2 linked regions of the Homo sapiens genome follow. The protein of the gene in region 1 interacts with the protein of each later gene in a biochemical or structural test. Each region holds a gene or a part of one and is shown on either strand. Other genes may lie near its edges.

Region 1 (15,906 bases):
CATGGGAACAGATCCCTCCTGAATGGCTTGGTGCCTTCCTTGTAGTTCTTGCTCTAGAGCTGGTTGTTTAAAAGAGCCTGGCAGACCTCCCTTCCTTCTCTCTTGCTCACTCACTCTATTTCTCTCTCTCTGCCGTGTGATCTCTGCACAGTTGGCTCGCCTTGGTTTTCTGCCACGTGTAGAAGCTTCCTGAGGCTTCACCAGAGGCAGATGCTGGTGTTGTGCTCCTTGTATAGCCTGCAGAACTATGAGCCAAATAAACCTCTTTCCTTTGCAGATTACCCAGCCTCAAGTATTCCTTTGTAGCAACACAAAGAGACTATGACAATGATCTAATAAGAGATGAAGGTGGTCACTAAAAGAAAGCACAGCAAGGCATTTTTCAAGGAAGGAGTCAACCAAATATCTAAAACTAGCATTCTGGAGGGTTCCCACTTTATTTAAGGGTAGAACTCAGACTCTTCAGATAAGCTGATACATTGTATATTTCTTAGTTTCTTTACTGTCTTCTCTCTCCACTTCACCTGCATGGTGAAGAAACCAGGCCTGGAATCAGATTTGGAGCATGGCTCTAGTGATGTTTTTTGCATACTTTTAGTATTATTTGTGTGCCCTCCTCACTTTCTTGGAAGTTGCCGTTTGGAAATATGAGCTACTGATGAAATTGCACTCACATTTCTTTTCTTTTTCAAAAGACATATTTAATTGTGCTAAGTTGAATTGCACTTTTTAGGTCCTGTTAAAGGACCTAAAGAGTCATAGTCTGACTCTTAAAGTCAACGTCTGATCATGAAGTCAGACTACAGAAAAGGATGTGTGATAATTGAACAAGTAATCAATATGTGTTTTTGAAAAGTTTACAGTGTATTCTAAGCGTTACTTCTGAAGAGAGGGCAAGCACACATAGTGTAGTGAGTTACACTGATGACTTATGGGCAGGCACACTTGAAGGGCAGGGGGCTCCCCAGTGCCCCATCCCAGCAGCGGGGCTACTCCCTTCTGTGTGAGCCCTGTCTCTGCGTGAGAAAAACAGGGGTGTGTGGATGAGGTGACATCTGGTTTATCACAAGGGGGTTTTATTTGCCATGTACTCTGGCAAACACTATTTATCTGAACATTAAATTGGCCCCATTTTCTAAACAACTTGTTTGAGTTTCCCTGAGCCTGTTGGTAGTTCTGTTGGATAAATATGCCCTCGTCCTCGAATCTGACTAGGCCTTCTAACAGGATGGAGCATTTGGGGATCAAGAAGTAAATGTGTTTGGAGACTGTGAAAGGTATCTGAACCTTAACATTTGTATATTATAAAAAATCAAGGGGAACCATCTGCAATATAAAATGTTTTCACTTAGGTTCACTTACGGTAAGTAATATATGATCATGTATGTGAACATAGTTCATCATACGAATGTTAGTTGTGGTTATGGTTACTCACTGCATGTGGAGTTTATGCTGTGATTCCCATCTCTGCGGCAGTGTTTGTTTTTGCAGTTGGTAAGTGCTAACACATGTAAAAATAGTATCAGAGGTTGTTTAGATAGTGCTGATGTGAGGAATTCAAGGCTCCATAAAGGTCCTGCTAAAGGAATACTTACATAGGGTGAGATGCTGAATAAAATAAATGTGAAGAAAACACAAGCAAGCTTTTATGCAAAGGGAGTTTTAAAAGTGTCTATTCAAAGGATTTTGGTGAAACAGTTTCAGCTTTACTTAAATGTACTCAACTCATCATCGCATTGCATCTGTCCGCTTACATAGGAAAGTCTAGAAATTTCTGAATTGAAAACACAAACACTTTAATATAAAAGCTAGGCATGAAGTGATTTTGCAGAGTGAGAAATGACTGAGAAACCCACACTAGGAAGAGAATTCAACCAGGGTCTGACTGTATGTGAGCTTGCATTTGTTGGGAAGTCCATGTAATGTCTGAGTCAAGGAGGTGGTGTTCCAAAGTCACGTGTTTGAGAAATGGTCCTTTTCTGCTGTGGTTAAGGAAATAGCTCTGCCTCCCCAGAGCACCCAGTTATCCCCAGGGGTCCTGCTGCAGTTCAGGACCACTGCTCTGTGGGGGAATCGCTTTTTCCTTGCAGCCTCCAGGCCGTTGACTGCTTCATCCCATGCTGCTCTGAGTAGTAATGTGGAGACCTAAATGAGCAAATCATTAATGTTTAAAATGCAAAGTTTGCCTTTCAGATAAGGAATTGATTTTAACCGCTGCCTCAGTTTTCCCTGTGTCTTCCTTCTCTTTCCTGGTGGAGAGTACTGGCTGAGAGGGAGGAGCTCTCAGGCCAGCTCACTGCCACCACTCGTGGGGCTTCTCCTGCCCTCTTAGTAGAGATGAGTGGAAGGAACAGACTTTGAGTCAGAGCTGAATTTGAATTCCAACATTGAGGCTTATTGGCTCTCTGAATTTGGGGAGCTTATTCAGTTTCTTTGACCCATTTCTTTGTGATTGAAGAGGCAGTGAAACCCAGGTGATAAGAGTGTGAGCTCTGGTTCCGATCCCAGCTTCACTATACACTTGAGTGCACAGACCTGGGCCAGCTCACCTTGCATCTGAGCCTCAGTTACAGCATCTATGCAGTGGGGACAGGAATACCAGCACCTCCTGGTTTCTTTCTGAGGAATAAATGAGTCATGTATAATACATAAAGTGGTTAAACGATGCTTGACACATAGTAAGTGTTGACAAAATTTAATGTTAACTATTGTTTAGTTGTTACCATTAAAAACCTTCACTTTTTTTCTCTTTGTGAAAGCGTATTCCTTGTTGAAAGTTAAAAAATAGCAAAAAGAGTGTTCAATTCCATTGTTCCCTATTGAAATTTCTTGGTGTGTGTACATACATCCTTTCTGATCTTTTTAAAAGCATGTATGTATTTAAAAACAAGAATCATACTACATATACTTTCTGTTATGTTTAAATAATATATTTCCTATTCCATTACTGGTATAAGAGGGCAGTCGTTTGGATGATCCTAAATAACGTGAGATTACTCACTTGAGACCTGACCCTGGGAAATGGGCTTTTCCTTTTTTTAAAATGTGTTTTTGGTGGTGTTGAATTTAAAACACTAAATCTCAAACTGCAATTCACTTTAACAGATGAACGTTCAACTGTAAATATTCAGCTTGGCTTATTCATGGAATTGGATTATTTGAAAATATGCATCTCTAATTTGATATATTATGACTAAGGTAGGTGACAGTGTCTCTTAGTTAACATATTTCCTCTTTTCCCTCCAGTTTTATTTGGATCGGAATCTACTCAACTGCTTTTTCACCTGCAAGATCAAATTGGAAATTTAATTCAGTAGAGAAGATAGCTATGTCTATGAGCTTTCTGTCAGTTCAGGATAAAGAAGCTGGTTATTGGAAGAAAGAATATATCACAAAACAAATAGCATCTGTAAAAGCCGCACTAGCTGACATTCTCAAACCTGTCAACCCTTACACAGGCCTTCCAGTTAAGACCAAAGAGGCCCTCAGGTACGCAGTGTGTTCCAAAAGAGAATGATGGCATCAGCTCAAAGTATCGTGTACGTAGGACGTATGTGCAGTTTAGATTGTGTGGGACTGTCTCTAGTATTTTTGTGTGTTTTGTGCATCTATAAAATATGTATCATTTTCCTATTCCGCATAGCCTTCTGCATCTGCTGATTCAACCAACTGCAGATCAGAAATATTAGTGGGGGGGAACTTGAAACAATAATAACAGTATAAAAAAGAATACAAATAAAACCAGTACATTATACATAATAACAACAGTTTGCACAGCATTTACATTGTATTAGGTATTATAAGTAATCTCAAGATGATTTAAAGAATACGGGAGGAGGTGCATAGGTTATATGCACATACTATGCCATTTATATAAGGGACTTGAACGTCCACAGATTTTGGTATCATGGGGTTCCTAGAACCAATTTCTTGCGGAGACAGAGGGATAACTAGTAAGTAGCCTAAAGTTTTAATGAAAAGCAGAAGTAACCTACTTATCTGCTATAGTACAATAAGAATGTTCAAGGTCTCTTTTCTGGGCAGAACCTTTGTCTTATTTATATATTGCCAGTACCTGGAAAATCATGGATGTTCAGTGGGTGTTAGGTGAGGAGAAAAAGTCTAAAGAGAGTACTATTGTTGAAGTGAAAATTATACTGGGCACATTCTGAGAATTTTGACTTTGGCTTTTAAGGAACTAGATGCTTTAGAGAAGATACATGAAATTGCCTTTAGCATTTTTTTTTTTTCAATGAGGCAAACATTGTTAGTTTTTTTTTCTTTCTCCAGAATATTTGGTTTAGGTTGGGCAATTATACTGAAAGAAAAAGGTGGAAAAGAATATATCATGGAGCATGTTGATCTTTCCATAAATGACACATCAGTTACTGTTATATGGTATGGCAAAAAATGGCCATGCCTAGCATCATTGTCAACCTTAGATTTATGTGGCATGACACCAGTTTTTACCGACTGGTATAAAACTCCCACCAAACATAGGTAAGTACCAATCAGCAGAACTGTTGAGTGAGAGCATCTTATATGTAAATATTAGTTGGCATTACTTTTGTAATTAAAAAATAAGAGCAGCGTTTTTTAATTTTATCACATATTAAATGTACATTCTGCATTAATGCAGAAGAGGAAAAGAGTGCATTTTATCACATTTCTGATTAGGTCTAAATTTAACTTCCTCGTATCTTGGGGTTGTCTTTAATGGTAAAGAATGATGTTCTAGTTAACAAAATTTCCTGGATGATTGATGGCTAACCTTTGAGGTTTTTCATTTTAACCATCTTAACAGAAAGATATATGTTATCTTCCTTCTTTAGTAAATGGTATACTAATCATAGTCTAAATATGAGGAAACCAAGTCATAATTATGAGTTATTTTGTCTGCCTTCTGTTGAACTTACTAGATATGTGATCTTGTGCAAGTAACTTACTCTTTCTGTGTCTCCATTCTCTCCTCTATGAAATGGAATGATCGTTATACTGGCATAGTATTTAGCATATATGACTGCAATGAATAAGATCGATCAAAAGATATCACTATAAAATGCGTAGATCAGCTAAGTGTGCAGCACATGGGTAATGCTTAGTGAGCCCTTTACTATTCTGTTGTCAGGTGGCTTTGCACTGAGTCCATACTCACTATGAGGCTGGCATTCTGCCTTTCTGAGCAGCTCTCTCGGGCTGTCTTTTTCATCATTGATTGCTTCCTCCTAAAAGCTGGATTATGGCATGCATAGCATCCTCATCTCTGGAGCAAGCTAACATAGCTTTATATAAGATATATTGCAAATATAAAGGTAATACCTGCCTTCTCCTGCGTTGGTTTCCTGCCCTCCCATCTCCTTCACTGTCTCAGTATTCTTTGACTTTTCAGGAGTATTTACCATGTCGTTTTCTTACCATCCTTGCGTGCTGCAGTTCCACCCATTGGTTTCTCTCCTGTCTGTCCTTGCTATGGAGGATACTGTGATATCTGACATTAGTGCCTGCCATCTCTATGGAGGGACAGGGTTCTTTCATGGTTTCCCTGGATACAGACACTTTTTTTTTTTTTTGCAGCTCTGTAACTGGGGACCTTGTTTTTGGCTCCTCTCCATGGCGCCTGCTCTTTGAGCATTGTTTTAGTGATTACTGAGCTCTCTTCCCATGCTCTGAATGTAAGACTATTCAGACCTCTTGGTGCTGGCAAATCCAGGTTTTATTGTACTCTAAAAATATTCTTAATGTTATGATGAAAAATGAATTATTTTTCCTAAATATATTACTGAAGATACTTTGGAAACAGTTACCTTTTAAAAAATGGTACTTTTATTTGGATAAATCTTTGAAATTTCATACGGGATCATGAAGGAAGCCAGCTTTTTCTAATGTAGTAATTAGGCTTTATGCATTTCAAAATTACGTTTGGAGAACAAGTCCACAAACTGTACTAGTTTTGCTAAACAATATGTTACTTGGCATATCATGAAATGTTACTTACAGATATTAGGACAAACTGGCTAACATTAATTCAAATGATCCTGAAGAATTAAGTTAAATGGATAATGTTGAATTATAAAGCTCAGTTAAAGACAGTATTTCCCTGAAATGGTCATCAAGGTCAGAAGTAATAGATACTACATAGTGCCCAATGCTAGAATTCATTGGGAAAATTCATTTGATGTAATTTATTTCTGTGAAACTTCCATGGACTCCAGCCAGCCTTTGATCAACTGTGATAAACAAAACTAAAAGTGTTTTTTAGGATTTGTTTTGATCGGCACTTTTATTGCAAGTTTGTAAGTGAATGCTTTCATTGTGCAGGAATATAAATCCTTGTACGCATCTGTGTGACAGCCAAAAAGAGCCTTTGTGATTTTTATTTGGGTCTTTTTTGTTTCCTCTATGAGAAGTTTTTCAACAACAGTGAAAGCCTCATTGATGTAATCTGGATTTCCCTGTAATTTATACCTTTCTAGTCAGACTCCAAATTTTCTTCCTTGCCAGCACTTTCTGCTCTGCAGCTTGTGCTGTCCCACCCTAAATTTGTGAGAACTGCTGGGGAAACGTCAGCCTTAGTTTCTGTGTCTGTGGCTGTAAGGCCAAGCACATGAGGACTCAGCACATTCCCAGAGTCTATTTAATAAGTACCTCTACAGCCAGATTTTCAGAGAAGAAGGTTTCTCACATCCCCACCCAGCCTCCTCTATCCACATTAATGATACTAGCAGGGACTGCGATTTATTGAGCACCTGCCCCATGCCGTGTGCTCTTGTCCCCACTCAGCAGGCTGGTGATTTCATACACAAAGAACCAGCCTGTGATAGTCGCAAAGTCACTGTAGGTTGAAGCTAAGGTTTTACCTCAGGTTTCTCTGACTCCACAGTGAGGTTCCTGACCCTGCATTTATCCTCCTCCAAGTGTATTCTGCATATGCTGGGTTTATTTCTAATTTCTACATCACACACGTTCACCGACCGTCTCTCCTTACCCAGTTGTTGTTCTCTGCACAAGAAGTTATTTTGAAGAGCTGAACATGGGACTAGGGTCATGTGGCAGCTGCGGATCTGGTTTTGATGCTTCACAGTCCCTTCCACTTTGAAGCTGGACTGCAGCTGGTGTCCTTTTTAACTTATTTATTTAATGTACCTTTGAATTCCTATTGCCTGCTGGCTTGTGCCTGAGGTGCTGGGCACCAACTGTTGAATGAGATGTGGCCCCAGCTCCTCAGGGATTTCAGTCTAATGCTGTGTTAGTGTCTCCTTTATGAAAACACTGGTGATTTAGTTTAAGTTTATTTCTGATGTGTCAACTTTCACTATCTCTGAGTTATCCTTGATGATAACTGTGAAAGGCCCATCTGCTTTCCAGCCATCTCCTGAGACCACCCGTTCTTATGTCACTTGAAATAGTGTATCTTTGCTTCTGTGTTGTTTTACTCACTTGACTAGGAATACACATTGAGAGTCTACTTTAGATTGTATTGTGCTGGATTTGGAGGGAATAGAACAGGAGACAATGCTGCCACTTCATCACTTTCCTGGTCCTTCAACTTCCTCCCGGCTGGGTCATTGAGTTGACAGTAAGAGCAAGACGGAGGGGAAGAAATACCTAGTTGGCTTGGAAATCTGAATGTATCCATTTTGCCTTTTATTCATTTGTGTCCTCACCCTGCCAACATGCCACTTAGTTTGAGCACATCATTAACATGCTCTTCAAACACATTTGTGATACACTAAAGAGAATTGACAACACTATGGACAGGAAAGCTCACTTCTCTCTCTCCTTTCCTTGGCATAACGTTCAAAGACTCCGATGGCATTCTTTAATTGCAAAGTACAATCTGAGTCATTTGACCATATCTACCATGATTGGCTGTGACAGACTCATTCGGATCTTCTGCCTGCACCCTGGCCTCCTGGTGGGAGTGTGGAAGGTAAGACTTGAGTCCCTGTATGTACTGTGTCATTTCCCCATCACAATACCACATTTACTTACCATTATGTATGACTTCAAATGTAAAATCCTTTAAGCTTTTCACTAACTGCAATCCATTTTACCATCTCACCAACTTCATTTTTTCAAGCTAACATGGCCCTCTCTGTTCCACCGAGGCTGCTGTGCTGTTCTGCTATGATAGACAACTCTGCTATCTGTTGTTCTGCTGTTCTGCTATCATAGACAACAACCTCTTCCTGCCTTCATGTTTTCCTTCATGTTATTCCTTTCATGTCATGTGGCTTTCCCACTTCCAATCAGTCCACGTTCCTTCTTCTCTTCCTTTCATGCTCTTTCTCTGACAACATTTCCCTTACTATGTGTTCAGCACGCTTGTCTCCCAAGCCTGTTTCTGATCCTGTAGGTGCGGCATTGAGTGAAATCTGCTCTTCAGGGTCAGCTGTCTACGATGTTATCCTTTCTCTCTGCATAAGATTTCTCGTTTCACCAGGTCTGGCTGATATTTTAAGATAGTAGTTCACAAATCTGTTTCTGAGTTGGCGTTATGCATTAGTTTACAATGACTAGACGGGATTAAGACCCTAGCTTCAGACAACACCATCCTCATCCCTTTTCCTTAGCCAACTGTGGCCGTCACTTTTTCTTTCCCTCCTCCCCTTTCTGTGTGAAGGTGGCTTGTGGGCGAGACCGCAGCTTGCCTGCTCTGCATTCGGTGACTCGCATGCATCCAGCTTTGTTGGTTGCAGAGTTGTGAGCACTCTGGTGGCTTCGATTGTCCTCTGCCTGGCTACTGGAGAGTGGCACCTTCAAATTTACCATTTGGGGGTCACCTATGCCCATCAGTGTCAGCTGTGAATCTGGGGAGAAATGGAGGTCAGTCCCCAAATAGTCGCATTTTCTGCTATTCAACCTCATGGACAAGTGAAGAAGTTGAATCTAATCATTCCCACCACGTTGGCCAAATCAAGCAGTTACTTGCAAGAGGAACATTGTGTCAGTAAAGTTCAGTATTTGTAGAATTAATCTGGTATCTGTGAAAGTCTTTGAAAGGAATTTGAAACAGCCTGGAACTAACTGCATAGTTTCACAACTATCATATATATCTTTTGATATTTCACAAGCTCTAGGCTGTGAGTTCTTTTGGTCCTGTGTGCTCTGCATATTTGGGTGAATTGTGGTCCTGCTGTCAATATGAAATATAAGTCTTATTAGATAGTAGTAACATATTAGCAGTAATAATGCATTAGCACTGTGGTGATCTTATGTTTGTAAGAAAGTGCCTCTATCTGCAAGATGAATGTGCTGTGATCTTCACAATGATCTTGTGAAAAATGTAAGCATTTTGGTTGAAATATGTATTCTTCTCAATTAACTTTTCAGAAGGAGGAAGAACTGGCTTTTGTTATGGCAAATCTTCATTTTCATCACCTTGTGGAGAGGAGCACATTAGGCTCGGCTACTATGTATGTATTTATATGTGGGTGTGTTGAATTTTTGTACAGTAAATATAAAGTATTAGAAGTTGATGCCATCTTAATATCCTGAGAATAGCTGCAGAGATATTCTGTTTTTAATCAGTAAACACAAACCAACAGGCACAATTAGCTGTCGCTAAAATAATTGGATTATTCACGAGTACATATTTGCTTTATTTATTCTGGGTCAAGGAATTTGTACCTAGTAGGTTGTTATTTGTATGGGTAGGATAGCTTGATTACTTCAAGATGCCACTACTGTCCTTCAAGTTCTTGCTCTTATGTGAATTTTCACATCTTGTAAGGCATGTAGACTCATGGCCCTTGGGCTGAACCTGGCCTGCGGATGATTCTGTCCGGTCTGGACAGTGTGTGTCTTTTAATGAATTTGCGCGTCTTTAGGTGGCGCACAGGCTTCCCATTTCACTACAGCTCTCACCCTTTTCCTGTGGACTTAGACTCCCTTACTCATTTTTTTTTTTTTTAATTACCTGAGAAGCTCCTGAGTATTTTTGAGTTTGTCACCTTACGTAGTCATGTTTTTCTTGTTGAATAAAACTTTGTCTTGGCTTTGGGTCTGCCTGGGTGTTTGTCCTGCAGATCGGTATTCAGTGCCTTTTCCTGCTGAGCACTTTTGTCCCCTGGACACTGAGAACAACACGGAGGGCAGAGTGGCTTTTATAGAGTGGCCATGCTGGGATCAGCTGCAGAAACATGTGCACCCGTGCTGGGCGGTGGCTGCCTACAGAACTCACATCATTGCCTGTTTTTATAGAAGTTGGTAAAAGTAACATTGAGCAGTCTTTTAAGTTCACAGTATTGAAGATTATAGGGAATCCTATGGAGTTTCATTTGTAGGAGGTAGTGCTTTGATACAGATGGTAATTTTTTAAAAAGTATTTTCAAACCAAGAATTTTATCCCTGGTGTTGACAAATTTGTATGTTTCTTTTGTTTTGCTTTTCAGCCCCTATGAACTGCCTCCACATAGCCCCTTTTTGGATGATAGCCCCGAGTATGGACTGCACGGCTACCAACTCCATGTTGATCTGCACAGCGGTGGGGTTTTCTACCTATGTGGTACATTTCGCAATCTCTTCACCAAGAGAGGTGAAATTGATTGAGTTTTTATTTCATTATGAAATTAAAGGTTGAGGTGAGGGAACCAATTTTGATGTCCGAGTTAAGAATTGCCCTCACTGGTCACTTTATAATCTTTTGGCACCAGTATCCTCCCAGACCCGTGTGTCATCCCAGGGCTTGTGAAAGTCCTCACTGGACCGAGTCTCTTCAGAACTGGCTCTGTCTCCTTCACCACCATCACTCTCAATGCCACCTTCTGGGGGTAGCCCCTACTCATCTTCTCTACTGATGCTTCCTTATTATTTTTCCATGCTCTCTGCTTTCCCCAGACTTCTTCCCTTCTTTCTTAAAGGAATGTGGTAAATTTGCCAGCAGGGCCCGTGCCGCTCCAGGATGAGAGTAAAGAGAAACCAGCCTTTCTCCTCTACGTACTGCATCACTGTTTGCCACACCTACCAAAGCCAGGACAGAGGCTGGGGCAGACAGAGGAAAGGAGGGAGCTTACGCCAAGCAGGAAAAACGAGGGAGTGGAGAATGCCCCATTCTCACTTATCTGATTATTTCCTTTTGGTTTCATTCTACTGTAGCCTGTAAACTTGGAGTTTCATGTAAGGACTTGCTTAGATTCAAGTTTAACATTTCTGGTAAAAATATTTTAAAAGGGAAGTTATGTACTTCATTTTGCATTATATTGAGAGGTATATAATGTCAGGTTGTCCCATTATTAGTAATGCCTGGTTTTATCATCTGGTTAAGATGGTGACCACTAGATATCTTCATTATTAAAAGTATTCTTTTCCAAATATCCTGGTCCTCCAAAGTCTTTCATCTAGTGGACTTGACACTCATTAATGATATGTGCCTAAATCAAATATTTTGTTTAAAAATGTTGATTTTCTAATTATGTCACTATTTCTATATTTATCAACTGAGATTTTGTAAAGAACTTTCTCTTATCACCTGGGTGAACTTCTATAAAGGCAGAGCAAATGCTTAATTCTTTCCTTTTAACTGCCAATTTTCAGATGAAGAAATTGATGTTACAGAGCACAAGGGGCTTGCTGCCTAATGTGCTGGAACCCAATACTGTGACAGCAGGTTTTTGAGAAAGGAAAAGCTTTTTATGGCTGGCCCACTGATAAGGAGACAGGAGTCCAGCTCAAATCTGTCTCCTCATGCTGGCTTTAATGCAGTAATTTTATTAGAAAAGGTGTAGGGAGTGGATTCTGGGATTAGTAGGTGATCGGTGGAAGGAAAGGGAGGTCTGGAAAGTCCTCAGGCATGGCGCAGTTACCTCTTCATGCCCTCGTAGGTCACTTGCAAATTCAGGAGGAGTTAATATGAAACATGTGGTGGGAATTCAGGCTGTGATGTCAGAAAACTCCATCTGTGAAAACTCCAGTTGGCCATATTGGTTCCGACTGATTTCAGCCAGTTTTATCTTACAAGTGGAGGGCGTTTTATTATTTTAGTAAGTTGCCTCTTTTCTTATCTGCCATCTTGCAAACTCAAGCATTTCTGTTAGTCATTAGCTTCTTTAACTCTGGAGCATGGTTTCACTGAGGCACTAGTCATCTCCTGTGGTGGAAGAAATGTGAGCTCTTCTTCTTTCCTCCTCGCCCCCACCCTTGTTTAATGTCACTTTGGACTCTTGGATATTTATTTATTTAATAATTTATAGTCAGTTATAGACATTTCTTTTTGAAGTTACTTGGTCGGTGGGATCTGCTTTGGGCTGCTTCTGTGTCCTGTAGATATCCTCTTTGTCTTTGAGTCTTCCTTGCTTTTTGGCTCAGGAAGATTGCTAGGTTTTCTCGCGTTTGTTGGCATTTTTATCAGAATTATTCAATTCCACATATTAACCTGAGGTATAGTAACATCTATGTTGTTGAATTGTTCCATCCAAGAATGTGGAACATCTTTCAGTTTGTTTAAAAATACTTTTATGTCTTTGAGGAGTGTTTCAGAATTTTCTTCATGCTAGTTTTGCACATTTCTTGTTAAGATATTTATGAAGTATTTAATTCTTGTTACTTCTCTTTCGTTTTATCTTCCAGCTGTTTTGTGATTTCTTTGTGAGGTTTTGGTCTCATAGAATGAATTGGGAAGTATTCTTTCCTCTTGGATTTTTTGGAGGATTTTGCATAGAATTGGTAGTATTTCTTCCTTGTTTGGTAGAATTCATCCAAGCCTGGACCTTTCTTTATGAGAAGACTTTTAACTACAGTTTCCTTTTCTTTCAAAGAGATGGAGCTATTTAGGTTATCCATTTCTTCTTGAGTCAGCTGTGGTATTTTTTGTCTTTTAAGGAATTTGTCCATTTTATCTAAGTTGCTGACTTTATTGGCATAAAGTTCTTCGTAATAGTCCCTTATTATCTTTTTCATGTCTATAGAATCTAGTGACATGATGTGATTCCTGATATTGGTAATTCATGTATTTCTGTATTTCTTTTTTTTCCTGATCAGTGTGGCTGGAAGTTTATCAATTTTATTCATCTTCTCAGATACCTAACTTTTGGTTTTATTGCCTTTTTTTCTGTATTATTTTGTTTTGTATTTCATTGATTTGCATGTTGATTTCTATTCTTTCTACTTTTTTTCTGCTTATGTTGTAATTTTCTGTTTTTCTAGTTTCTAAAGGGAGAAGTGGAAATTATTGATTTGAGAACTTTCATTTTATCATATTGAGACATTTGGTGCTATGAACTTCCACCTAAGTATTGCTTTAGTGGCATCCCACAAAATCTGATATGTTTTATTTCATTTTCATTCACTTTAAAATACTTTCTAATTTCCTTTTTATTTCTTCTTTGATATATGGGTTAGATAGAAGTGTGTAATATAGTTTCCAAATATCTGAGGATTTTCTAGAGATCTTTCTGTTACTGAGTTCTAATTTAACTCAATTGTGGTCAGGAAATATGCTTTGTATTACTTGAATTTTTAAAAAGTGACTGAAATTTGTTGTATGTTCCAGAATATGATCTATTTTGGTATATGTTCCATGTGTACTTGAGAAGAATGTGTTCTGCTGTTGTTGAGTAGAGTGTTCGAAAATATTAATTAGGTAATACCGGTTGAGAGAGTTGATATTTTTTGCCTACTTGTTTTATCAGTTAGAGAGAGGTGTTGAGATCTCCAACTCTGACAGTGAATTTGTGTACTTTTTTGCTGTTTTATCAGTTTTTGCCATGTGTATTTTGAAGCTCTGTTATATTCATGAACACTGGAGACTATGATATCCCTTTGACTAAGTACACACTGTGTACATTGTTGAGGGTGCCCCCAGTGTGCCCTAGTGCACACCAAGGGTACAAACGCTGTGCCTTCTATGCCAGTATTAGCGGAGAACTGAGTCTCTGCTCTCCATGGCTGCAGCCCTCATGGAGTGTTGAATTCGGCATCTAGCCTGACCTGGTGCCACCACTGTGGGCAGCTGGCCTGGGAAATGGGGGAACAAGATGCGATTTCCACAGAGATGAGGTGAGATGGCTGCCTGGTCCCAGCCACAGCTGCTCCTCAGAGCTCTCCTTCCCCTTTAAACCTTGTGAACCGTTACAGAGCCCTGTGTGTCCCCACTCTGCCTCCCCCACCTCAGCCCACACTGCTGCCATCCCCTCTCTGGCCTTATCCTTTTCTGTCCTCCCCACTCTAGCTCCGCTGCAGCTTTAGTGAGTTCCTCTCTGTTCCTTGACTGTATCAGGCTTTCTGTGGCCTCACATTCTTGGTGTGCCCCTCCTGCCTGCAGTGTTACTGCCCCAGATCTTAGCGTGGGTCCTGGGGGTCATGTCTCTCTGAGCCTGATTCACTGACAGCTTCTCAGTGAGGCTTTACCCACTTTGCTACACCTAGAAGCCCTCACTCTCCCCATTTCTCACCTGCCTGCCTCAATTTTTCTTCATAGCACTGTCTATCACACTGAGTTTACTTATTTAGGTAGTTTATATGTTTAAGAGAAGTAACTTCCATGGGGCAGTATTTTGGTTTATTTTGTTCAGGACTGTCATGGCACATAGTAGGCTTGCACATAAATATCACAAAGAGAATGGGTGGCTCCCAAAGGCCATGCAGTTGAGGGGCTCTTAGATAGACTCTTCTGGGCCTGTTATCTTAAAGCTCTTTCTGTTTCTTTAGCTAAAGGATTCTCAGCCGCATTGGCCAGGATCTTTTTGGTCAAAGCTCTTGCAGTTCTCTGTTGCCTCTAGAGGAAAAGATGCAGCTTCAGGATGCTGCAGAGCAGAGCTGCAGGCTGGCCCTTCTTGTGGGACCAAAGCAAGGCGACAGCGAGGGCCTGAGCCTCTCCACCAGGAGTGGGAAGCCCTGCCCTCATCCCGCCTCCCAGGGCCTGGGGAGGCCCCAGGAGGCTGGTGGGGCCTATTTCCTAGGCCACTGTGCTGTTCCAGAGCTGCCACTGCTGGTCTTCCACCACTGCCTTGATTCCTTTTCTCTTACAACCCAGAGGAAGGGCATCAGAGTTCCCCTTCTAAAGTACATGACTGTGTACTTCTCTCTGGAAATAAAAAGCCTCACAAATTCAACGTCTGGCAGAGTACTTTCTACTTTTGTACCTAGGGTAGGTTACTTGGCTACACAAATAAAAATGAAATTTGTGTTTAGGTACTTAGTGTCTATGTCATCCTCTCATTACAAGGCAAACATCAGGAACTTGTGCCATTTCTCATCTGAGATGGCTTATAAGACATAGTTTTTGCAGAATACCAACTGTTCTATAAAAATTGCTTCCAAGACACTAATTATATTACTTTCAGTTTTAAAAATGTTTATTTTGAAATAATTTTACATTGTACAGAGAACTCCTGTACAGTCTTTATACAGAATTTATTCATTTATAACATTATTTGCCATTAAAAAATCATTTTTCTTTCTCTTTCTCTCTCTCTCTCTCTGTGTATAATGTTAATAGACCCCTTGATGTTTATACAACATGTGTGTGTGTATATACACATATATATATATATGTGTATATATGTGTATATACGCAGGTCATAAAATCGTCAAGGGGAATATTAACATTCTGAATCTCAAAGTGCCGGGATTACAAGCATGAGCCACCACACCCTGGCCTACCTTTATGTGATGTGGTGTGGTGGCTCATGTTTGTACCTAGCAATTTGAAAGGCTGAGGCAGGCAGATCACTTCAGCCCAGAAGTTCCAGACCAGCCTGGGCATCATGGTGAAACCCGGCCTCTACAAAAAAATACAAAAATTAGCTGGGCATGATTACATGCACCTGTAGTCTCAGCTACTTGAGAGGCTGAGGGTGGGAGGATCGAGAGTTCCAGGGTTCAGTGAGACATGATTGTGACCCTGCACTCCAGCCTGGGCAACAGAGCAAGACCCTGTCTCAAAAAAAAAAAAAAAGAAATATGTAT
Region 2 (15,906 bases), on another chromosome or scaffold:
GATTACAAATTAATGAGACACCTTAACTGAAATATTCTATGTGGAGCTAAAAAGAACTCCCTTCACTGTTCCAGCAACATTGAGTTCTGTTTGTTAATTCGCCAAATGAAATGATGTTTCTGTTTACAACTTTGTCTTTAATTTTGCCCTGTGGATAATTTCTGAAGTTAATTTGGGGACCTTTTTTCTGATCTTTTGCTTACTGCTTTTTTGCAACCGTGTGCAGCCTTCTCCCCTCCCACTCTTCCCTTTGAGTTGCTGTAACCTTTGATCAGTATTTGACTTATTCTCTACCATAGTATGGTCAACAGACTTATCTTTTTTCTTTGGACTCTGAAACACTCTGATATTTGAACTTGAATTTGGGATGTATTCCAAGAATGTTTTCATTGTATAATGTGGATTACTTTCAGTAAAAGATCTCAGAGTAGAGGTTTGTATTGCTTCTTGTTTTGTGATTGCTCTTCGGATAATTTGAAGTTTTTCTATAGCTTTCAATGACAGTATTCTGCCACCTGACCCCAGCAATAACTATTTAATTATCCCTCCAAGCTGAGGTGCTTTCTTGCTGGGTTTCTTTTATAAACACAGACATAGTGTCTTTAGAGAATACTTTTTTTTTTTTTTTTTTACAGGATAGTTCATAGAATTTTAAAAGAATCTTCAGAAATGGAATTTTAAAAGAATCTTCAGAAATGGCCTTTGCCACCTTTTTTACAACCAAAATTAAGATTCAGGCAAGTTGGCTAGTACTGATTAAGAAAGAGGTTAAAAGGGGTTCTAGAGAAGAGAAAGTCCCATGGAGTGGAATTGGCAGTCTTGACACAGCGGAGAAAAAAAATCTAGGCTTCAGGGAAAGGCGTTTTCTTGTTGTTATTTCTGTACCCTGTTGTGCAAGGTGTCTTAGCTCCGCTGGGCCGAGGCTTTTCAAAGCTGAAATATCCTCTCATGAGTCAGATTCTGTTTGGCAAGAAGGGGATGTTCTTCAGACAGCTGCCAAAGAGCTCTTTTGTTAGTGCCAACTTCAAACAGCTTGGCTCCAAATGAGTTGTCTAGGAATTGCAAAGCCCCCAGATGGGAGCTGTGAAAGTCCTTGGTTTTTAGTTGAGGATCTTAACATTTCCATGACTGTTTTGAACAAATTTACACAATTTCTCGATTTCCAAATATCACAATCCCTATTCCTATCTCCATTTTCTTCTAGCAGTTCTCTGACTTAGTGATGAGGTTATAGAATTAAATCTGTTTTTGTTCTCTTCATTCAAACCTCCATACACTCTATATAGCATTTAGCATTCTTTAGATATGTGTAAGGGAGTGAGGGAGATTCTTTGCAGTATTTAAAGCTGAATGCCTGGAGTTGATAATTTGGCCTTTTTTCCTGACACTTTTACTTGTAAGTAGACACTGTTTGTCTATTTACAAGATCTTCCTGAAGTTTCACCTTTAAAAGCAGAGTGTTGAAAGTTCTGAGTTCTTACAATGAAGTTATATATTAAAGGCTTAGCTTATATGGCAGATAATACATGTGTTCTGTCTTCCCTCTCTTAAGAAAACCTATAATAGGCCGGGCATGCTGGCTCACGCCTGTAATCCCAGCACTTTGGGAGGCCGAGGCAGGTGGATCACGAGGTCAGGAGTTTGAGACCAGCCTGGCCAACACAGTGAAACCCCATCTCTACTAAAAATACAAAAATTAGCTGGGCATGGTGGCGGGCACCTGTAATCCCAGCTACTTGGGAGGCTGAGGCAGAAGAATCACTTGAACCCGGGAGGTGGAGGTTGCAGTGAGCCGAGATTGTGCCACTGCACTCCAGCCTGGGCAACAGAACTAGACTCCATCTCAAAAAAAAAAAAAAAAAAAGAGAAAAGGAAACCTATAATATGTAAGACACCTTACCCTGTGTTTCGGTACATGATACATCTTCATCTTTTGTATTCTTTTTTTTTCTTTTTTTAATTAAAAAAAATTGAGATGGGATTCTCTCCATGTTTCCCAGGCTGGTCTCTAATTCCTGGGCTTAAGGGATCCTCCCGCCTCAGCCTCCTGAAGTGCAGGGATTATAGGCGTGAGCCATCATGCCCAGCCATCTTCTGTATTCTTGAAAGAAGATTTTAGGGAGATATCTGTAAAAAGAACAGAATGGATTTTAAAATTCAATTTAATGTACTAAATTTAAAGTTTATGTAGCTTCTGACTGAAGTTGATGAAGTATATTTTTCTAATGTATGTATATAGTTATTCAAAGTATGAATTCATAGTATTTTACTTAAATTTTGTTGTCTTTGTGTTTCAGTATGAAAACCCATGGACAATCCCGAATATGTTGTCAATGACGAGAATTGGCTTGGCCCCAGTTCTGGGCTATTTGATTATTGAAGAAGATTTTAATATTGCACTAGGAGTTTTTGCTTTAGCTGGACTAACAGATTTGGTAAGTTGTAAATGCACTCCCAGTTTGCTCTCCTTCCAAATCCTGGTCTGTACTACTAAACCGAAATAGCATAGCCTTAGCCTGCTTTTCCTTGGGAGGAAAACCTCAAGATGAATTTGACGTGGTACTTTTTGTGAGGACTTTGTCTTTAGCATCTATATGGGATTTTTTTTTTTTTTTTTCATATGATTTCAAGGAGGAAGCGAAAGTTGTAGGGAAGTAAAGGAGGGGATACTTTGTACTCTTGGTTTTTAAGAGTGAAAGAAACACCCTTAGAAATTTCCAAAGAGCTGAGTGCTTGCTTTAGGGATAGAAATAAAGGAGAGGAGATCTGAGATGACTTTTCTATGTATTGTGGTAAAGAGGAATACTCAGATCTGCAAAAAAAAGTTGGTTTTCCTAGTGGAGAGGGAAACTGGACCAGTTGTTATGACCCAGGGAACTGGGATATGACCAGAAGCATGTAGAAGTCATAGCTTTGCTCAGGTTTCATGCTAGCAGAAGGCTGTAGGTACCCCCACAGATTTATTTTCTGATCTCTGCTCTACACCCCTCTGACTGCCCTGCAGAATACTCTGCTCTGGGCTGACAATTGGACGTCCTTCCTTCATTCTCCTCCCTCAGCAGATGGACAAAGAAGAGGAGCTCTCCTTGATACTACATTGTTAGTTTTGATAGAGGAGAGGAGGATTTATTCAGATGATCTCAAATTAGAACTGGAAAATAATTTTATAACAGAAGGCTACATTAAATAGGCTTTTGTGGACTGGCTAGCCATCATCATGTATGACATTATTTGTATTACCAACTTTATTTCAAAAAAGTTTCGAAATGCATTATAAAACTGGCTGGACACAGTGGCTTACACTTGTAATTCCAGTGCTTTGAGAGGTCAGGAGTTTGAGATCAACCTGCACAACATAGCAAGAGCCTATCTCTACAAAAAATTTAAAAATTAGCTGGGCATGGTGGCATACGCCTGCAGTCCTAGGTACTCAGGAGGCTGAGGCAGGAGGATTGCTTGAGCTCAGGAGTTCAAGGCTGCAGTGAGCTATGATCGCACCACTGTACTCTAGCCTGGGTGACAGAGCAAGAACTTGTCTCTTAAAAAAAAAAAAAGGAAAAACTTCATGCTGTATAAAAACATAGTTGAGGGAAGTGTGGAAAAGATGGAGGAATAATTTTAAACCAGGGCAGAGTTAGCAGGAGAAATAGATACATTATATTCTTGTACAAGGTTGGTCTGAGATCTATATGAGCATCCAGACAGGCGGTGCTTTGGTGCCTCTTCAAACTAATTTATGTTTGAAAAGCTTTGCTCAATATTTATTGAGTGAGAATCGAGAGAAACTAGTTTTATATTAATAAAAGTTGTATGCCGTCTTTCTTTGTAACATCAGCTGTTCTCTTCGAGGTTCATAGAAACAAAATTCCACCTTCCTAGTAGCAGTAGCATTGGTGGGCAACATAAAATTAACAGAAGATTTTGGAGTGCAGACAAAAGAGAGCATTTGCATTGTTACATGGCATTTCCAAACCTGCTTCAAACATAGCCTCCCAAATTGGCTTTACCTCTCTTTTTCCAGAGTTTAGCGTCTACTAATATTTGTCACTACCTCTTCCCATTCTCACAATCTTTCTCCTTTTCTTTTGTCCCTGCTTTTTTTTTTTTTTTTTTTTTTTTTTTTTTTTTTGGGGAGACTGACTCTGTCGCCCAGGCTGGAGTGCAGTGGCGTGATGTCGGCTCACTGCAGCCTCTGCCTCTTGGGTTCCAGCAGTTCTCCTGCCTCAGCCTCCTGGGTAGCTGGGATTACTGGCATGCACCACCATGCCTGGCTAATTTTTGTATTTTTAGTAGATATGGGGTTTCATCATGTTGGCCAGGCTGGTCTCGAGCTCCTGACCTCAGGTAATCCACCCACCTCGGCCTCCCTCGGCCTGGGATTACAGGTGTGAGCCACCACACCTGGCCTGTCCCTTCTTTTATCCCAAAGCCTGCATTCATTGTTAATATTATCTCCAAGTCTGTCAAAGGCCATTATACTGATAACAGTTTTTTTTTAACATAACAGACAAGATCTTTTTCAGTTACTGTAGTCTCCTTTTTTGTCTGCTACGTTTTTTTTTTTCTTGTAAGCTGCCACATGAGATTGCAGTATTCATTGAATGTTAGAGAGGCCCCATTAACATTTTACTAAATATATAAGATGATGTTTGTGGAAACCTAAGTTAACTGGTGCCACATTTCACATTTGTTCCATGGAGATTTTAGTGCCTTTCAATTGGCCACTGGGAGGTGGTCGGACTCATCAGTTTAAGCCAGGGAACGACAAAGTCTGATTGCGTTGTGTGTGGAAAATGGATTATAGACAGCTAAGAGTGGAAGCTGAGTAAGTGGTTAGGGGGCTGACCATGATCCAGCAAGAGTGGAAGCAGAGTAACTGGTTAGGGGCTGGCCGTGTTCCATGGCAGCCGTGGTGGGAGCTTAGACTGGGGTTGGAGTTTGGAGTTGGAGAGAAGTGTGTGGGTTTGAGATATATTTTAAAGACAGAAGTAATATGTGGATGGATTAGATATGGAGTGAGAGTGGGAGGAGTCAAATATGAATACTAGGGACTTACTTTAAAAAAAAAATTCTCTTCTAAAACCAGGTTCATGGAAATGACATTTTCTGTGATGGGCAACACTTGAGTAGGGCAGAGTTTAAGGGAGAATACTAAGAATTCTGTTGCCTATCCACATAGAAGTATCAGTTGGGCAGTTTAGTAGTTTGGAGTTGGAGGAAGTCATCGTTACAGAGAGAGAAATTTGGGAGCTGTCAGATATAGATGGTTGGATCTGGGTAAAATCATCCAGGCTGAGGTAACAGGAATGAAGGGTCAGAGAAATGAGCAACAAGTAAAGCACCAGAAAAGAAGCCAGTCAGGAACCCTGGGAAGGAATAGCTGGCGAGGAAGAAAATTAGGCAGTGAGATTTCCCAGAAAGTGGAGAAAGTGCTTCAGTTGTGTCGAGGTCAGGTACTCTAAAAATGCGGAGTTCCTTGGTGACCTTTATGAGCCTCACCTCTGGAGGGGTGGGGACGATTGGAGTGGGTCGATGAACACATGTGAGATGGTAATGACATTGGACGTTCCTTTGAAGCAGTTTTGCTTTGTAGGGGGATAGAGAAATAGGATCACAGAAGGGTCTTTTAAAAAGATATATACTGGGGAATTATATCTATGTGTATATAGATAGATAGATATAAAATCCTATATATAAAAATATATGCTGGAGTATATGTATATACTGGGGAATTTTTGTTTGGCCTTTTTTTTTTTTTTTTTGAGATAAATCTCGTGTTGCCCAGGTTGGCCTTGAACTCCTGGCTTCAAACGATCCTCCCACCTCAGCCTTCCAAGTAGCTGGGACTATAGGTGTGCCACTGTGCCCAGTGAATTTTTGTTGTTAGTTAACTGATTAATTAAATGATCAGGTAGAAAGATTAAATGAAAGGGAGAGATGGATGATGCAAGGGGAGATGGGGAAGAAGGGAGGCAGGTCACAGAAGGTGAGAGGGCATGGGAACGGATGAAGGAAGGCAGAGAGAATGAATGGATGCAGGTAGGTGGGGGATTTGATGATGGGAATATGAGGATGGGCTGACTACGGTTTTCTTTTTCCTTAAGGAAAATACAGACATGACCATGAGCGAGAGGGATGGAGTTAGGTCTGAGGTGAGAGCAGAGACAGTGTGGAAGAGACAGTGTGAAAAGAGAGGGTAAATATGGTAAACAAGTGTGGGATTGCTAGGCAGTATTGGGTGCCCATGGGAGATTTGTGGTCATCAGTTTGAAGTGAGACCAGTCTTCCCATTTGTGTGTTTTCCTTAAGCACTATTCAGCTCTTAGGTGCAGGCCCAGAGTACATGGAGAGTTGCTTTTAAGCAGTGTTGAAGGAGAGTGGAGTGAAGGGGAGTTACAGATGTTTATAAAGGAATGATGTTGATGACCTTGGAATCTAGTGTGGATTAGAGGAATAGTGAAGATGAGAGGGTGATGATGGCGAAAAAGTGAAAGGTTAAGTTCCCTGAGGTCAGAAACTGAACTAAACCTGATCTTCCAAGGTCCCAGCTCCCCAGGCTAGGTACTTTTCTGTTCGTATGCTTAAGAAGGAAATAGATTTTTTCAGTTGCAATAGCAATAGCTAGTAACTGCTTTTTTTGAGGATTTACTAAGTGCTGAGTGCTGAACAAGTATTAATCACATTGTGTGCTGAAGACAACCACCCCTTTGAGGTAGGTAATTTATCTCTGTTTTACAGATGAGGAAACTAAGGCTTAGTCAGGCCAAATAACTTATCCAAGATCACACAGCTACTAAGTGGCAGAGCCAGGACTTGAACAGCTTCTGTTCTGCTACAAAGACCACATTTTTTTTTACCACGGTCCTGGACTACCGCTGTCTCCTCTAACTCATTGGAATACTTGAGATATGGACAACTTACTTGTTCTTTAAAATGAACCATGATTAATTGCGTCTAAATTAATCTTTTTTCCCCTTAGAAATAGTATTAGAGAACTCAAACATTTGTTGAAACTTGAAGTTAAATGAGTAAAAGCCAGGAAGGGACTTGGATAAACCAGAAAATATCTGCCTTGTTTAATGTGAATAGACAGTACTTGATTTCAGTCCATTTTGTGGCCCCAGAGTGGCCAGACCGCTCCCTTCTCAAGTTAGGATGGAGACCTGGGTTTTTATGGGAAGAATTGAATACTTACATGTTGATAACTAATTACAGTTTTTAAAAGCTCTGATAGGTCAAACAGAACCAGCTTACAGGCTCCATTTGGCCCACTAGCAACTAGATGTGACTTATGCTTTAAATGGTTTATTTTTAATCACAATAATATAAAAATAAATAATTTAAGTATCAGAATTTTAACTAGGCCAGGTAGAGAGGATTGAGTTTTCTATTCAAATGTAGGTAATGCAGATACAGTCAGAGTATGGAATAAACAGTGGTATTGAGCAAAATGAGTTGAAAAACAGAAAAATGGTAAGTTTTAACAGAGTTGGATTATATTATCCTAGTCCAGGCTCTGCCGTTCATGCTTTCTTTGAGTTTTCTTTGGGTTCTTTATAGCTGTAAATACATCACTAACCGTATCTCTAAATGTGTATTTGGGTTCATCCCACAAAGGGGCCTTGTGAAAATACCGAGAAATAACCAGAAGGACTTGAGGGGGAAAGAAAATAAATGTGCATTTATTTTAAGACCAGTTGCTAATTTAAAAGCGAAATGTATACCAGCAAAAGAATGAGAATGTTTGGGGGTAAGAAACAGAAGACATTTTGTTAACATTTTATGAGAGTATAATTGTTATTCTGGTATATCTTAAGCTTCAGAATATCTGCTTTGTTCCTGTTATGACATTTATATATATAAAAAAAAACTTCTATTTTCAGTTGGATGGATTTATTGCTCGAAACTGGGCCAATCAAAGATCAGCTTTGGGAAGTGCTCTTGATCCACTTGCTGATAAAATACTTATCAGTATCTTATATGTTAGCTTGACCTATGCAGATCTTATTCCAGGTAAGAACGCGTCATGCGTACTTTTGAATAGCACAGGGAAGAATGACATTAGTCAGCTTAGGATTTCTCTTGAGAGACAAATAATTTTTGTTCCAAAAATATAGTTTTCAACTTTAAACTGTTTCCCTAATTTTAAACTGTTGAACTGTTTTGTCAAACTACTTGTGGATTTTAGAATTTATGTCCTTGTTTTACTAGTAAAATCAGTTGCTTTCCTAGTAAGATTGTTTAAAATTAAAATTGAATAAATATTTCACAGTGCCAATTCATATTACTCTGAAATTTTTTGGTGATACATTATGTATTTTTAGTGCCTAGCTTTTCAAAAGCAATTTAGTTTTCCTACGTTTATTATCTTTATTAATATCGTTTAATCATAAGTGAGAACTCTGAAATTCTGAAGATGTCTATAAAATTTCACATTATGTAGACCCTATTATGCAATTTTTAAATCATATATATAGTTTGTACATTATATGAATACTTTTTCTGATAAGATTTCATGATTTTTTTGCTTTGTATTTTGCATGTGCTTTTCTGATTGTTCATTTTCTTCTTCAGTCGTATTTCTCAGTTTTTCTCCCTCAGACCAAGTTAAACTGTTTTTTTCCCAAGAGCTAGGAATCATATCTGATCACACTGGGACTTCCCTTCACTGTCAGTCTAAGAGTTTGCATTTTTGAGGTTTAGGAAAAGGGAAAAAAAAGGAAGAAAGAAAGAAATTGTATCTGAGAACAAAGAAGCTGCCACATGGTCCCTCGGTATCATGTTATTATTGACACTTGGTAGAAAGAAGTATAGTGGCATTTCAGTCTAGTCTCCCCCAACTGGAAATTATTTTTCTTTCTGATTTTTAGTCTTTTAAGTTCTCGTACCAAAATAAAAAATAAATTGGACTAATGTTTACTTTTATGTGCTTCTTTGAAAGTTAGAATTGAGGTGTGTATGTGATTGGGGAATGGGGGTGTGTGTGTGTGTGTGTGTGAGTTTTCTTGCCTAGGCTGGTCTCGAACTTCTGGGATCAAGTGATCCTCCCACCTCGGCCTCCCAAAGTGATGGGACTATTGGCTTGAATCACCTTGCTTGGCCCCTGCCATTTTTTCAAAGTTACATTGTATTTTGATGTAGTATTTTACAAAGGTTGGCCAGTCATTTTGCTATTGAACATAGAAATTGTTTCCAGGTTTTTTGGAATTATGGGTAATGTTGCTGTGAGTTTTACTTATATGATTGGTGTAGGTTGCTTTCCAAGCTGAGACTTCCCTTCACTGGCAATCTTAGAGTTTCCATTTTCTTTCTTCTGTGTTGAGTCTGTTTTTCCAGGCTCCCATGTCTTCCTTTGCTTTAAGTTACTCCTTTTCTCCAGTTGTTTTCTGTAGAAGGATGGAGTGTGGCAGCCAGATTTTTAGAGGTCTTAGACATCTCAGTGTCTCTATTTTGTCTTCCATACATGATTGACAGTTGAAGTAGGCATCACTTTTTTTTATCTTTTATCTTTTTTTCTTTTCTTTTTCTTTTTGAGACAGGGTCTCACTCTGTGACCCAGGCTGGAGTGCAGTGGTGCAATCTCAGCTCATTGCAGCCTTAACCTCCCAGCTCAAGCAGTCCTCTGACCTCAGCCTCCCAAGAACCTACCACCATGTGCATCACCACGCCTGGCTAATATTTGTACTTTTTGTAGATATAGGGTTTTACCACGTTGCCCAGGCTGGAGGCATAATTTTTAAACTGCAGATGATTTTAATTCAGAATTGTGAAGACCCTCTTCCATAGACTTGGAGATTCCAACTTGCTACGGAACAGTCTCTTATCATTTGGATACCTTTTCCTTTACATGGGATTGTGTTTAGTATTGGAAAGCTTTTAGGATTTTAAGAAAATGTGATTCCTAATTGATGTTTTCTTTAAAAAGTTATCTCTCTTAATTCATTTTCTAATGCTTATATGGCTACCCAGTTATCCTAGCACTTTTTATAGAAAAATTTGTATTTTTCAGACTCAGTGCAAGGTAATTTCTAAGTTGTTTTCTTCCCCATTGTTTGTCTGTCTTTGCATCAGTGGCATTCTTCTTATTGCTTTGCTAAAAGTCTTGATATCCAGTAGAGTGAGTCCTTCCACCTTGGACATTCTTAGCCCTTTCCATTTGTTTCCATTTGTTACAAATTTTAGAATCAGCTTTTCTAAGAATCAGCAATTTTCCAGAGAAAAATCTGTTTGGATTTTGATTGGGATTGCAATGAACTTATGATCTGTTTGGAGGAATTTGCATCTTTACAATGTTAAGTCTTCCAGTCCAGTATCTACTCCATTGAGGTCTGCTTTAATATCTCTCAAAGTTTTATAGTTCTCTCCAGAAAGATAATAAACACTTTTGTTAGACTTATTCCTAAGTACATGATAGTTCTTGGTGCTTTTATAAATGGTAGCTTTTAAATTTCATTTTCTGGCCGGGCACAATGGCTTGCCCCTGTAATCGCAGCACTTTGGGGGGCTGAGGTGGGCGGATCACTTGAGATTAGGAGTTCAAGAGTAGCCTGGCCAACATGGCGAAACCCTGTCTACTAAAAATACAACAATTAGCCATATGTGGTGGCACGTGCCTGTAATCCCAGCTACTCAGGAGGCTGAGGCATGAGAATATCTTGAACCTGGGAGGCAGAGGTTGCAATGAGCCGAGATTATACCACTGCACTCCAGCCCGAGTGATGGAGTGAGACTCTGTCCTCAAAAAAAAAAAAAAAAAAAAATTATTTTCTTATAACTCCATGTTGATATGAAAAAATCAGTACTGTTTCTAATGTTGATTGTTATGTCTAGCGAAACTTGCTAACTTGTATTCTAACAATATACATATAAATTTGCTTGGATTTTTTACATGCTTATTTATGTCTTGTATGTAATTAATGACAACGTATTTCTTCTTTTCCAGTCCTTTTACCCTTTGTTTCTTTTACTTGCCTTACTGCACTGAGTAGTACAGTGTTGGCAAGGAGTGGTGTCAATGTCTTATTCCCAACCTCATAGAAAAGCCTTTAGCGTTTCACTATTAAAGATGATGTTTGCTGTTGGTTTTTGTCAGTATCCTTTTTCAAGTTAAGAAGTTCACTTCTGTTGGGAGTTTAAGAGTTTTTCTCACAATTGGGTACTGAATTTTTTTGTGTTTTTTGTAGAGATGCGGTTTTGCTATGTTGCTCATGCTGATCTTGAACTCTTGGCCTCCCAAAGTTCTGGGATTATAAGCATAAGCCACCACCCCTGGCCTGGATATTAAATTTTATCAAACTCCTTTTGTGTATTCCTATGGTCATATCATTTTTCCCTTTAGCTGTTCATGTGTGGTGAATTACACATATTAATGCAATATTAGTTCTAATGTTAAAACAAGCTGCAATTCCTGGTATAAATCCAACATTGCCATGATATATTATGAAGAGATTGCTGGATTTGGCTTGCTAATATTTTGTGGAAGATTTCAAATTTTAATTCATGAGATTGGCTTGGAATTCTTCATATATTCTTGTTAGGTTTTCATATCAAATTTATAACTAGCCTCATAAAATGAATTGGGGACTTTTTTTTTTCTTCCATTCTTGGAAGATGTTTGATTATGAATATTTCTACTTAAATGTTTGGTAGAATCTGTTAAAGCCGTTGAGGCCTGGAGTTTTCTTTAGGGCAGAGTTTTAAAATAGGTAATTCATTTTCTTTAATTGTTACGGGATGATTCAGGTTTAAAGTACATCTTTTTTTTTAACCTTCAACCAACTCACTCCATATTACACCTTTTGACCAGTTTTTAAGTTGTGATGTTTTTCTAGGAATTTGTCCATTTGGTCTACATTATAAAAAATGTATCATACGGTGTTTATGGTATCCTCATTAACTTTATTTATTTACTTACTACTCCTTGTGGAGCAGGGCTACCCTATAGGCAGTGGGCCCAGAATAGCTCTCATTAACCTTTTGATGTCTGTAGGATATGTAGTAATGTCCTCCTTTTCCTCTTGATTATTTTTTGTCCCTTTTTTTTTTTTTTTTTTCATCTTTTTTGCCAGAGGTTTGTCAGTTTTATGAATCTTTTGAAAGAATCAGCTTTGGGTTTTGTCAAGCCTCTCTGATCTGTTGTTTACTACTTCATTACATCTTGTAGTTTTATTTTTTTTCTTCTTCAGGTTTTCTTTGCTGTTCTTTTTCGAAATTCTTTTTTTTTTTTTTTTTTTGAGTGCAGTGGCATGATCTCAGCTCACTGCAACCTCTGCCTCCTGGGTTCATGTGATTCTCCTGCCTCAGCCTCCTGAGTAGCTAGGATTACAGGTGTGTGCCACCATACTTGGCTAGTTTTTTTGTATTTTTAGTAGAGACGGAGTTTCACCATGTTGGCCAGGCTGGCCTCGAACTCCTCACCTCAGGTGATCCTGAAGTGATCCTGACCTTAGGTGCCTCTACCTCTCAAAGTGCTGGGATTACAGGTGTGAGCCACCATGCCTGGCTCTAAATTCTTTAGATCAATTCTGTCTAGAAATAAAATGAAGATTCTTATGTAATTAAAAATTTTTAGTAGTTTTTAAAAAAGGAAACATGAAAATTGATATATTTTAAGTAATCCACTATATCAAAAATATTGTCATTTTAACATGTAATCAATAAATTAATGAGAATTTTTTTCCTATACGCCTTCATAGTCTAGTGTGTGTTTTGAGCAGTGCAGCTATAAGTGGATACCTAACTTGTTTTTCAGCTTTTCTTTTCTAAAGATTGCATATAAGACTGTATATGTTCCTCTAAGTGTCACTTTCATTGCATCTCCTATGTTGGTTTTAGTGTGTCATTGTCCAGTATACAATATTTTCCTATTTCCATTATTATTCTTTCATTGACCTGTTAGGTTAAAAATAAATATATCTTAATTTGTTGCCATTTTTGTGGGGATTTTTTTAGTTACCTTTTTGTTACAATTTCAGTCATAATAACCTTGTGTTCAGAGAACATGCTCTGTGATTTCAGCCTTTCAGCCCACTACTGTCAGATTTTATAAATATTCCATGAATACTTGAAATGAATTGAAATGAATGTATATTCTGCAGTTCTTGGGTATGATGTTCTTCATAGGTCTATTAGATCAAGTTTTTAATCCTGCTTTTTTTTTTTTTGAGACGGAGTCTTGCTCTGTCGCCCAGGCTGGAGTGCAGTGGCGCAATCTTGGCTCACTGCAAGCTCTGCCTCCTGGGTTCACGCCATTCTCCTACCTCAGCCTCCCGAGTAGCTGGGACTACAGGTGCCTGCCACCACGCCCGGCTAATTTTTTGTATTTTTTTTTTTTTTTAGTAGAGGCGGGGTTTCACTGTGTTAGCCAGGATGGTCTCGATCTCCTGACCTCATGATCCGCCCTCCTCTGCCTCCCGAAGTGCTGGGATTACAGGCGTGAGCCACCGCGCCCGGCCTAATCCTGCTTTTTAAGTCTTCTCTTTCTTCACTGACTGTTCTTTTGCTTTTGGTTTGTTCAGCAGTTAGAGTTTCCTACTGTATGTCTGGTTCTCCAGTATTTGTCTCTGTAGTTGTGATTTTGTTTTGTATCTTTTTTTTTTTTTTTTTTTGAGACGGAGTCTCGCTCTGTCTCCCAGGCTAGAGTCCCATGGCACCATCTCGGCTCACTGCAGCCTCTGCCACCTGGGTCCAAGTGATTCTCCTACCTCAGTCTCCTGACTAGCTGGAATTACAGGTGCGTGCCACCATGCCCTGCTAATTTTTGTATTTTTAGTAGAGACGGGGTTTCACCATGTTGGCCAGGCTGGTCTTGAACCCCAGACCTCAAGTGATCTGCCCGCCTCGGCCTCCCAAAGTGCTGGGATTATGGGTGTGAGCCTCTGCACCCGGCCTGCTTTGTATGTCTTGAAGTTATGCTGTTAAAGTGAATATGAATTAGAATTGTTACGTCTTCTTGGTGAAGTGAATGTTTTGTTATGAAGTGACCCTCTATAGCTGTAGTAATGATTTTTACCTTAAAATATATTTTGTGGGTTCTTAAGCTCTGCTGGCTTGCTTTTGGTAGTGTTTGCATGATAAATGTTTTACCTTCTACATTTCTGCATCTTTTTAGATATCACTTGTAAATAACATATTTATGTAAATATATATGTAAATAACATATTTTAAATAAAACCCATTTTGTCTTAACCCATATAGTCTTTTAACAGAAGCATTTAACCCATTAATATTTATTGTGATTGATAGATGTTTCATTCAGTCTTTTATTTTACTTGAAGTATTTTATTTGGCACATATGTTTTGTCCTTTTTAGTATTTTTAAATTATATTTTCTTTCACTCTACTAGTTTGAAAGTTTTACACGGTTTCCATCCAGTTTTCCTCCAAGTTAAAACATTTATCTTTATAAAAATATGATCTTAATAATTCTGTACTCATTCTGGGCATGGGAGGCACCTTAGAATTCTTGAACTCCAATTATTTCTCTCAGCTTAGGCTACTGTTGTCATACTTTTATATATTTCTTAAACTCACAGATATTGTTTATACAATGTTCATTTAAATTTATCTTCATATTTATTACTTTTTGCTAGTCTGTCTTGTTTGATGTATTTTAGACCTCCCATCTGAGATCATTTTCCTTTTGTCTGAAGTATGTTCTTTTGGAATTATTTTTAATGTAGGTGTACTGGTAAATTCTTTTTCTCTGAAAATGTTTTTATTTTGCCTTTATTCTTGAAGAATATTTTTGTTATGTATAGAATTCCAAGTTGGTATTAGTTTTTCTTAGCATGTTTAAGGTATTGCTCAGTCATCTTCTTCCATTGTTGATAATAAGAAATCAGCTGTTAATCCATTGCTTTTTTTTTTTTTTTTTTTTCAAGACAGGGTCTTGCTCTGTCACCCAGGCTGGAGTGCAGTGGTGTGATCTCGGCTCACTGCATTCTCTGCCTCCCGGGCTCAAGCAGTCCTCCTACCTCAGCCTTCTGAGTAGCTGGGACTACAGGTGTGTGCCACCATGCCCATCTCATTTTTATATGGTTTTTAGAGATGGAGTTTTGCCTGTTGCCCAGGCTGGTCTTGAACTTTTGAGCTCAAGCAATCCACCCACCTTGGCCTTCCAAAGCGCTCTGATTACAGGCAAGAGCCACTGCACCCGGCCATGTTGCTTTTTTTGAAGGCAATTTTGCTTTCTTGTGGCTATTTTTAAGATTTTCTTTGTGTTTTGTTTTTCTCAGTTTCACAATAATATTTCTTGTTGCAAGTTTCTGTTTTATTCTGCTTGGGATTTATTGGACTTTTCAATCTGTGCATTATATCTTGAAGTCAGTGCTAGAAAATTCTCAGCCACAATCTCTTTAAATGTTGTTGTTGTGTATTCTTTCTTTTCTTTTGGGGCTACAGTATACCTATGTTAGACGTTCTCCCCGTATCCATTACATCTCAGTGGGTTTTTTCTGTGTTAGCTCATTTTATCTTTTTGAGCTCCATTCTGGCTGTACTAATGGGTTTACTATTTTTCATTTCATTACCTGTCTCTGTAGCTGTACCAAATCTATTTAATCTTACTTTATTGTATTCTGTAACTATAGAACTTCTATTTTATTCTTTTTTGGACTTGCTAAGTTGTCTTTTATGGTTTTTAGTTCCATGCTGAAGTTTTCAGTATTGACTTATCCCCTTGAACATGAGTTGTTTTATAGACTCTGATGATTCAAAAATCTTACATCTTTTGGTAGTCTCTTTCATTTGTTCACTGTTTCTGTTGATTCTTACTCATGGTATTTTAATTCTTCGTTATTTTTTTTCTGTTTAGATACATTCTTTGAAAAATAATTTGGAGGAATATTTGATTCTTATGAACAAGGCATTACTCACCAGAGAAGATTTTTTTGTTCTACCAGGTGC

Evidence for each region.
Region 2: the proteins of FBXO15 (region 1) and CRLS1 form a complex in vitro, tested with the Homo sapiens proteins (one study listed by BioGRID).

The regions. Positions count from the first base shown.
Region 1 is NC_000018.10:74,117,999-74,133,904, reverse strand, and holds part of FBXO15 (F-box only protein 15), read left to right. Parts: intron 1-3,246; coding exon 3,247-3,489; intron 3,490-4,290; coding exon 4,291-4,500; intron 4,501-5,128; coding exon of another isoform or gene 5,129-5,252; exon of another isoform or gene 5,253-7,796; intron 7,797-7,803; coding exon 7,804-7,930; intron 7,931-9,333; coding exon 9,334-9,416; intron 9,417-10,394; coding exon 10,395-10,537; intron 10,538-10,885; coding exon of another isoform or gene 10,886-11,067; exon of another isoform or gene 11,068-11,313; intron 11,314-15,906. UniProt on the Homo sapiens protein: Substrate-recognition component of the SCF (SKP1-CUL1-F-box protein)-type E3 ubiquitin ligase complex.
Region 2 is NC_000020.11:6,007,478-6,023,383, forward strand, and holds part of CRLS1 (cardiolipin synthase (CMP-forming)), read left to right. Parts: intron 1-2,297; coding exon 2,298-2,435; intron 2,436-7,883; coding exon 7,884-8,013; intron 8,014-15,814; exon of another isoform or gene 15,815-15,902; coding exon of another isoform or gene 15,903-15,906. UniProt on the Homo sapiens protein: Catalyzes the synthesis of cardiolipin (CL) (diphosphatidylglycerol) by specifically transferring a phosphatidyl group from CDP-diacylglycerol to phosphatidylglycerol (PG).